Linked DNA regions of Homo sapiens: region 1 is reported to be linked to region 2. The links are microRNA targets in miRTarBase. Many come from high-throughput screens and were not tested one by one. Region 2 holds a microRNA gene; the other region holds the end of a gene's coding sequence.
What was found. Region 2 holds the annotated microRNA hsa-miR-6746-3p (CAGCCGCCGCCUGUCUCCACAG, at 2,004-2,025, shown strand). A microRNA usually pairs through its seed, bases 2 to 8, with sites in the 3' UTR of a target mRNA and lowers its output. Matches are read on the target gene's strand: a 7mer-m8 pairs with bases 2 to 8, a 7mer-A1 pairs with bases 2 to 7 and ends in A, and an 8mer does both.

Region 1 (3,398 bases), not on the chromosome of region 2:
TAGTGTAACTCGTTATTTACTTCCACTAATGTCTCCTCCCAGTTGATGCCCAGGTCTATCGAGTTTGATCTTATTCTTAAGAGATAGAATTGGGGAGTAGTTCTTCCATCCAGTATTGGGTAACCGGGGGGACGGAGATCCCCATCCTCATACCTTTGATTTGTGTAGCAGGACTGATGGCCGAGGGGATAATGTCCCCAGAAGGAACACAGACTCCCGCTTGGGTGAGATCCCCCGGAAAGAGGTGAGGGAAAGTCAGGCAGGGACCAGGGGAGAAAAGGGCTCTCACTGACCAGCTCCTTCACCTCTGCACACTCCTGGCTGGCCCCTCCATTCCACCCCTGCATTCTGTAGCATGGCCTTTCCTCCCTGCAGACTCATCTGGCCCTCTCCACGTGCATTTCCTCAGTGGGGTGGGGAATTGAGAGGATCTGACGCTGATTTCTTCCTCTCTCTTCCCTCAACTCTCAGATTCCCTCCCAGGCTGTCCCTCGCCGCCTTGCTACAGCCCCCAAGACTGAAAAACCTCCCGCACGGAAGAAAAGTGGGCACCCTGCCCCGAGTAGCATGAGGAGCCGGGGGGGAGTCTGGAGATGAGCCCCCCTACCCTCTCTCCTCTTTGTTCTCTCATTGTTGTTATTTTAATAAATGCTCATTAGTCTGTATCAGAGTCTCTGGCTCATAGGAATTTGGAAAATAGAGGTTTTGTAGGGAATCACTTCGTAAAGAAACCACATTTGGTTGAGTACTTTTTTTATATGTTACATGTTTATATGTCATTTCCTGTGGGAAAAGACATGAATGCTTTGGAAGACGGTCTATGACAAGATTTGGAAAGTTGGGGCGGCTAAGATTCAGTGGACAAAGCTAAAACCTGCAGAGCAATGAACTCTGGGTGGTAGTGGAATTATGGGTGATTCTTAGTTTTTTAATACGTTTCTGTATTTTCCAAATTTTCTAAAACAAGTATATGTTACTTTAATAATCAGAACAGACCCAAACTTTAATAAGAGTAAGTTATTGTATAAAGAGTTTGAGTTAAAATTTGGTTGTTGGGGAGAAAGTTTTCTAAGGGAAAATAATTCTTTCAGGTTGCATTTGTAGGATTCAGATTGGCAGATTCTACTCCAGCCAGCAGACATATTGTTGCTATAGTCTTCACGCTTACAGCTTTAAAACGTGTAAAAGACTAGAGTGCTGGGTCCTAATTAAACAAAAGAGTTTCTGCACAGCAAAAGAGACTGTCGACAGAGTAAACAGACAGCCTACAGAATGGGAGAAAATATTCTCAAACTATGCATTTGACAAAGGTCTAACATCCAGAATCTATTAGGAACTTAAATCAACAAACAAAAAACAAATACCTCCATTAAAAAATGGGCAGAGGACCTGAACAGACACTTCGCAAAAGAAGACATGCAAGCAGCCAACAAACATTTGAAAAAATGCTCGTTAATAATCATCAGAGAAATGCAAATCAATTTAATGCAAAACCCCACAATGAGATACCATCTCATACCTATCAGAATGACTATTATTAAAAAGTCAAAAAACAACATGCTGGCGAGGCTGCAGAGAAAAGGGAATGCTTATATAGCTGTCAGTGGGAATGTAAGTTCCGCCACTATGGAAAGCAGTTTAGAGATTTCTCATAAAACTTAAGAGTTACCATTTCACCCAGCGATCACATCACTGGATATATACCCAAAGGAAAATAGGTCATTATTCCAACAAGATACATGCATTTATATGTTCATTACCACACTGTTCTTAATAGCAAAGACATAGAATCAACCTAGATGCCCATCAGGGGTGGATTGGATAAAGAAAATGTACATATACACCATGGAATACCACACAGCCATGAAAAAGAATGAAATAATGTCCTTTGTAGCAACATGGATGGAGCTGAAGGCTATAATCTTAATTAAGCGCGTTAGTGCAGGAACAGAAAACCTCATACTACATGTTCTCCTAAGTGGGAGTAAACATTGAGCACATGTGAACATAGACTTGGGAACAACAGATACTGCAGACTCCCAGAGCAGGGAGGGAGGGAGGGAGGGGGACGCGGGTTGAAACACTACCTAATGGTACTATGCTCACTACCTAGGTGCAATATACCCACGTAACAAACCTGCACATGTATGCCCTGCATCTAAAATAAAAGTTGAAATTGAGGCTGGGTGTGGTGGCTCACACTGTAATCCCAGCACTTTGGAAGGCCGAGGCAGACAGATCACTTGAGGCCAAGAGTTCGAGACCAGCCCGGCCAACATGGTGAAACACTGTCTCTATTAAAAAATACAAAACATTAGCCGGGCATGGTAGTGGGCACCTGTAATCCCAGCTACTTGGGAGGCTGAGGAAGGAGAATCACTTGAACTTGAGAGGCAGAGGTTGCAGTAAGCCAAGATTGTGCCACTGCACTCCAGACTGGGTGACAGAGCAAGGCTCTGTCTGAAAAAAAAAAAAAAAGAGAGTTGAAATTGAAAAAAAATAGACTGCTGGCAAGAAAACTAAACCATGTTTATAAAACTTCCATTTAAATGCTCACTAAAATGGACAAAGAAAAACAATACTAGGGAAGAAAATAACGTAGACATGAAATTTAAAAAGGCCCCAAATTCATGGTACAAACACTGAAAAGCACTCAGTCAAACTGAAACTGGAAGAGGATATCCTACCTTGAGACTCACACGCAGCTCTCAGCTCTGGCACATGGTGCAGGGTAGTGGTGATGGCAGGTACAATTCTGAAAGTGGTGTTGGCAGGTAAGAGGTGGGTGTTTGAGGGACAGAGTTTACCAGATTCTGAGAAGAAGGCAGGGCCCTTCTATCTGACCCTGAGTTATACACATGATAGGATGTGGATTCATAGAGTGTTTTGTACTAATGTTTGCATTTTACTTCCACCTAAGTAACTTTCTAGCCCCCAGGGGACGGGCAAAGGAAGAAAAGGTGAAGATGAATGACCAGACATGTGGGTTGCCCTGCTCAGCTGTGTCAGAACGGCTTGATCCTCAGCCCCGCACAGGACCACTCTCTGGCATGCACCAGCGGAGAAACTGGAGGCACACTGGCGCAGGAGCAGCCCCAGGCTTGAGGGCTTTTCCAGCCCTGTCTGTTTACCCACGTATGGAAATGTTTACTTTTCTATTTTTTACCTTAAATATGTAACACTGGTTTGACCAAACTCTCAGATTCATGGCACACTATCATCATTGGTAGGTGATGGTTTGCTACGGTTTTTAATAGCTGGTAAAGTGAACACCCAGTTCATTCTCCTCATTATCTCCTGGATTCCCGCCTACCGCCATCAGTCAGTATGCCCTACATTTTTCTTGACGTGAAGCACAGCCTGGAGAATATTCCCTGAAACAGCTCTTTAAACGCAAT
Region 2 (3,398 bases):
ATCCGTAGTCCTTCCGCCTGTCTCTGCTGGTTGCCGCTGTGCTACTCAGCTGTGTCTGTCTGTCCGCCTGACTGTCTGCTCTCCTTCAGGATGCCTTCCGTGCCTTCCATCAAGATCTCAATTTTGTGCGCAAGTTCCTACAGCCCCTGTTGATTGGAGAGCTGGCTCCGGAAGAACCCAGCCAGGATGGACCCCTGAATGTGAGCCAGAGCCCTAGGAGAGGCTCAGCCCCTGAGGGAGGGGGATGGCTGGAGGGCTGGGAGACATTGCCACATGGCCAGGAGCAGCTCCCTCGGCATTCGCCCAAGGGGATGCAGAGCCAGGGCTGAGCCTGCCCTCCCCTCCCAGGGGGCAGGCAGTTGAAAGTGAAGCTGTAGGGATGCCCTGAGAAGTCCAGGGCTCCAGATCTGGTTTAGCCAGGCACCCGTTTGGATCCCGAGGCAAGCTCCCTCCCTGTTGTCGCCCAGTGTCCCCATCAAAAGGAGGATTTTGATGAACTGATTTCTCTCCTGGCTGTAGCGTCTTACCCACCCCATACCTTTTGGGAGGGAGAGGAGGCTTCACCACCAGCCAGTGCTCCAGCTCACACCCCGGGCTGGGTACTCTTGTCACTTCATTCCTCTTTGCCCACACCCCTTGGGCCTGGCGATGGGAGGAGCGGCTGGGGCTCCAGGAGAATGGGGGTGGGGAGGAATTTCTTCCTTGGCTGATCGGCCCCTCTGCTATGGCAGGCGCAGCTGGTCGAGGACTTCCGAGCCCTGCACCAGGCAGCCGAGGACATGAAGCTGTTTGATGCCAGTCCCACCTTCTTTGCTTTCCTACTGGGCCACATCCTGGCCATGGAGGTGCTGGCCTGGCTCCTTATCTACCTCCTGGGTCCTGGCTGGGTGCCCAGTGCCCTGGCCGCCTTCATCCTGGCCATCTCTCAGGTGACCCCAGTTCTGTGTTGCAGCCACCTTAACTGCCCAACAGACGTGGGCCCCCATGCATCTGGGCATTGTGAACATATTTGCTAAATGAATGAATGGACCTATGAAAGGATGAATGGATGAATAAACAGATGAATGAGTGAACAGTCTGAAGGCCCATCAGGCATGTCTGTGGGTCAAGCTGCATTCCAGATGAGCCAAGAAGTTCCTTCTTGAACAGATTCCGATCAAGCACAGGGCCACTGAGCCAGAGGCTGCTGCCCTGCAGCTTCATGACACTTACGAGCCCCTCCACCTCCCTGGGACTCAGTTCTCATCTGTAAAAAGAGGACACTGGCCCACAAGGGTCTTGAAATGGAGCATTAGCACGGGGGTACCCTGCAAGCTGAAAGGATTCACTGGGGCCCCAGGCCCTGGCGGGCTCCGTCCTTCCCAACAGCTTCTGACCCTGCCTCTCTCCCCAGGCTCAGTCCTGGTGTCTGCAGCATGACCTGGGCCATGCCTCCATCTTCAAGAAGTCCTGGTGGAACCACGTGGCCCAGAAGTTCGTGATGGGGCAGCTAAAGGTGAGGGTGGGGTGGGTGGTCAGCCAGGTGCTGGGTGGCGCTGGGTCTGCCCAAGTGTGTGGGCACAGTCGGGGGCACAGCCTGCCCTGAGAGCCCCCTCCTCCTCCACAGGGCTTCTCCGCCCACTGGTGGAACTTCCGCCACTTCCAGCACCACGCCAAGCCCAACATCTTCCACAAAGACCCAGACGTGACGGTGGCGCCCGTCTTCCTCCTGGGGGAGTCATCCGTCGAGGTGGGTGGGGAGGGACGTGGACAACCTCTGGCTGGGCCTGCAGCTGAGGGGGAGCTAATGCACTGGGTCCCCACTCTGCCCCTGACCTAGCCCCTGATCTGGCCTCCACTCTGGCTGGGCCAAGCTCTGCCCCCGTGTCTTTCCTTCCCACCTCCCAACCTGCTGGGGACGACCAGCCCGCTTGCTAGAATCTAGAGTTGCCTTTGACCCTTGGCCCCAGCCAGCCCCGTGACCTTGCCCGGGAGAAGGAGGTGGCCTGGAGAGCTGCTGTCTCCAGCCGCCGCCTGTCTCCACAGTATGGCAAGAAGAAACGCAGATACCTACCCTACAACCAGCAGCACCTGTACTTCTTCCTGAGTGAGTGTCCATCTGTCCTTCTGGGGTGGGGGAGTGCCTGGGCCTGCACTGTCCTCCCTGCTGTCCTGGACCACTCCCAGCCACTTCCTGGGGCGGGGCACGTCTGTCAGGTCTCCCTGGTCATGGCATCCTCCCAGCCTCTGCAGTCTGTACACACTCTCCCAGCAGCATGCCTTTGCCCCAGCTGTCTCCCGTGCCTGGGACACCTTGCAGCCACGGGCCATCACAGCCCTGCTGGGAGCTTCCCCAAGCCCCACGTAGAATTTCTTCTTGCCCTCACTAGAGTGGTCCGGAGCCCTAGAGTCTTTGGGCAGTTGTTGGGGCGGACAGAGTGAGGACTCAAGTCTGGCCCTGACTTGCGGTGAAGGGTGGTGGGAGGTGGTGGGGTAAGGGCAGCCTGGGGAGGCTTGGACACAGAATTGGGGGTGATATGGGGTCATTCAGCTGGATGTGACCAGCACCAACGTCCCAGGGGCATTCCTGGAGTAACAGAGCCCCTCACTCTGGCGCCCACTCACCTTGGCAGCCCAGCCCCACTCCTGAACACTCTCATGCCCCTTCTTGCAGTCGGCCCGCCGCTGCTCACCCTGGTGAACTTTGAAGTGGAAAATCTGGCGTACATGCTGGTGTGCATGCAGTGGGCGGTGAGTGGGGTTGCCCAGGACCCCGGGCATACGGCTGCCGTGGCAGGAGGTGGTGCCTCGGGGGACAGTACCTGCCCATGAAGGCAAACAGGGTGCACATGTGCGTGCAACAGTGTGGCTCACATGTATGCGTGCAACAGTGTGGCTCACATGTGTGCGCGCAGCAGGAGAGCGAGTGTGCCCGTGACTGTACGTGTGGTGGGGGGGGGTTGAGGAACAGGGGGGGTGTGGGTCTCTCTCGGTGAGGGTGTCTTCCCAGGAGGAGTTGCTGGGCTGACTCTGCCAGGCATCTGTGTCCCTGGCAGGGTCTTCCCCAACACACCCTGCATGACACCTTCGTCACTAAAATCAGCCTCGTGAGCTGGCAGGGCAAGGACCCTGTTCCTTTACTCAGCTGAGAAAACCAGAGAGGGTGGTGGCCTGTCCTGGGCTCTGAGGCAAATCAGGCAGAAGGGTTGGATGCCTGAGGTCCTCCTCCCACCCACCAGGCCTCCAGACCTCCGGGCACCTGGAGACCTCTCGGTATCGCCTCTGCCCTCCTCTGCAGGATTTGCTCTGGGCCGCCAGCTTCTATGCCCGCTTCTTCTTATCCTACCTCCCCTTCTACGGCGTCCCTGGGGTGCTGCTCTTCTTTGTTGCTGTCAGGTATGGCAGGGAGTGGCGAGGTC

Region 1: miRTarBase lists CNTROB as a target of hsa-miR-6746-3p. Seed matches in the 3' UTR shown: 8mer at 843-850.

The regions. Positions count from the first base shown.
Region 1 is chr17:7,948,914-7,952,311 of GRCh38, forward strand. It overlaps CNTROB (centrobin, centriole duplication and spindle assembly protein), which reads left to right. Exons shown (of 19, transcript NM_053051.5): 18 at 172-244; 19 at 472-1,007. The coding sequence ends at 597. Among named protein-coding and RNA genes, the nearest start is that of CNTROB, 18 kb to the left of the region's middle.
Region 2 is chr11:61,876,843-61,880,240 of GRCh38, reverse strand. It overlaps MIR6746 (microRNA 6746), which reads left to right and starts at 1,963; the gene lies at 1,963-2,025. FADS3 (fatty acid desaturase 3) reads left to right here. Exons shown (of 12, transcript NM_021727.5): 2 at 90-200; 3 at 732-929; 4 at 1,394-1,495; 5 at 1,607-1,729; 6 at 2,026-2,086; 7 at 2,654-2,730; 8 at 3,278-3,375. RefSeq lists an enhancer at 365-1,074.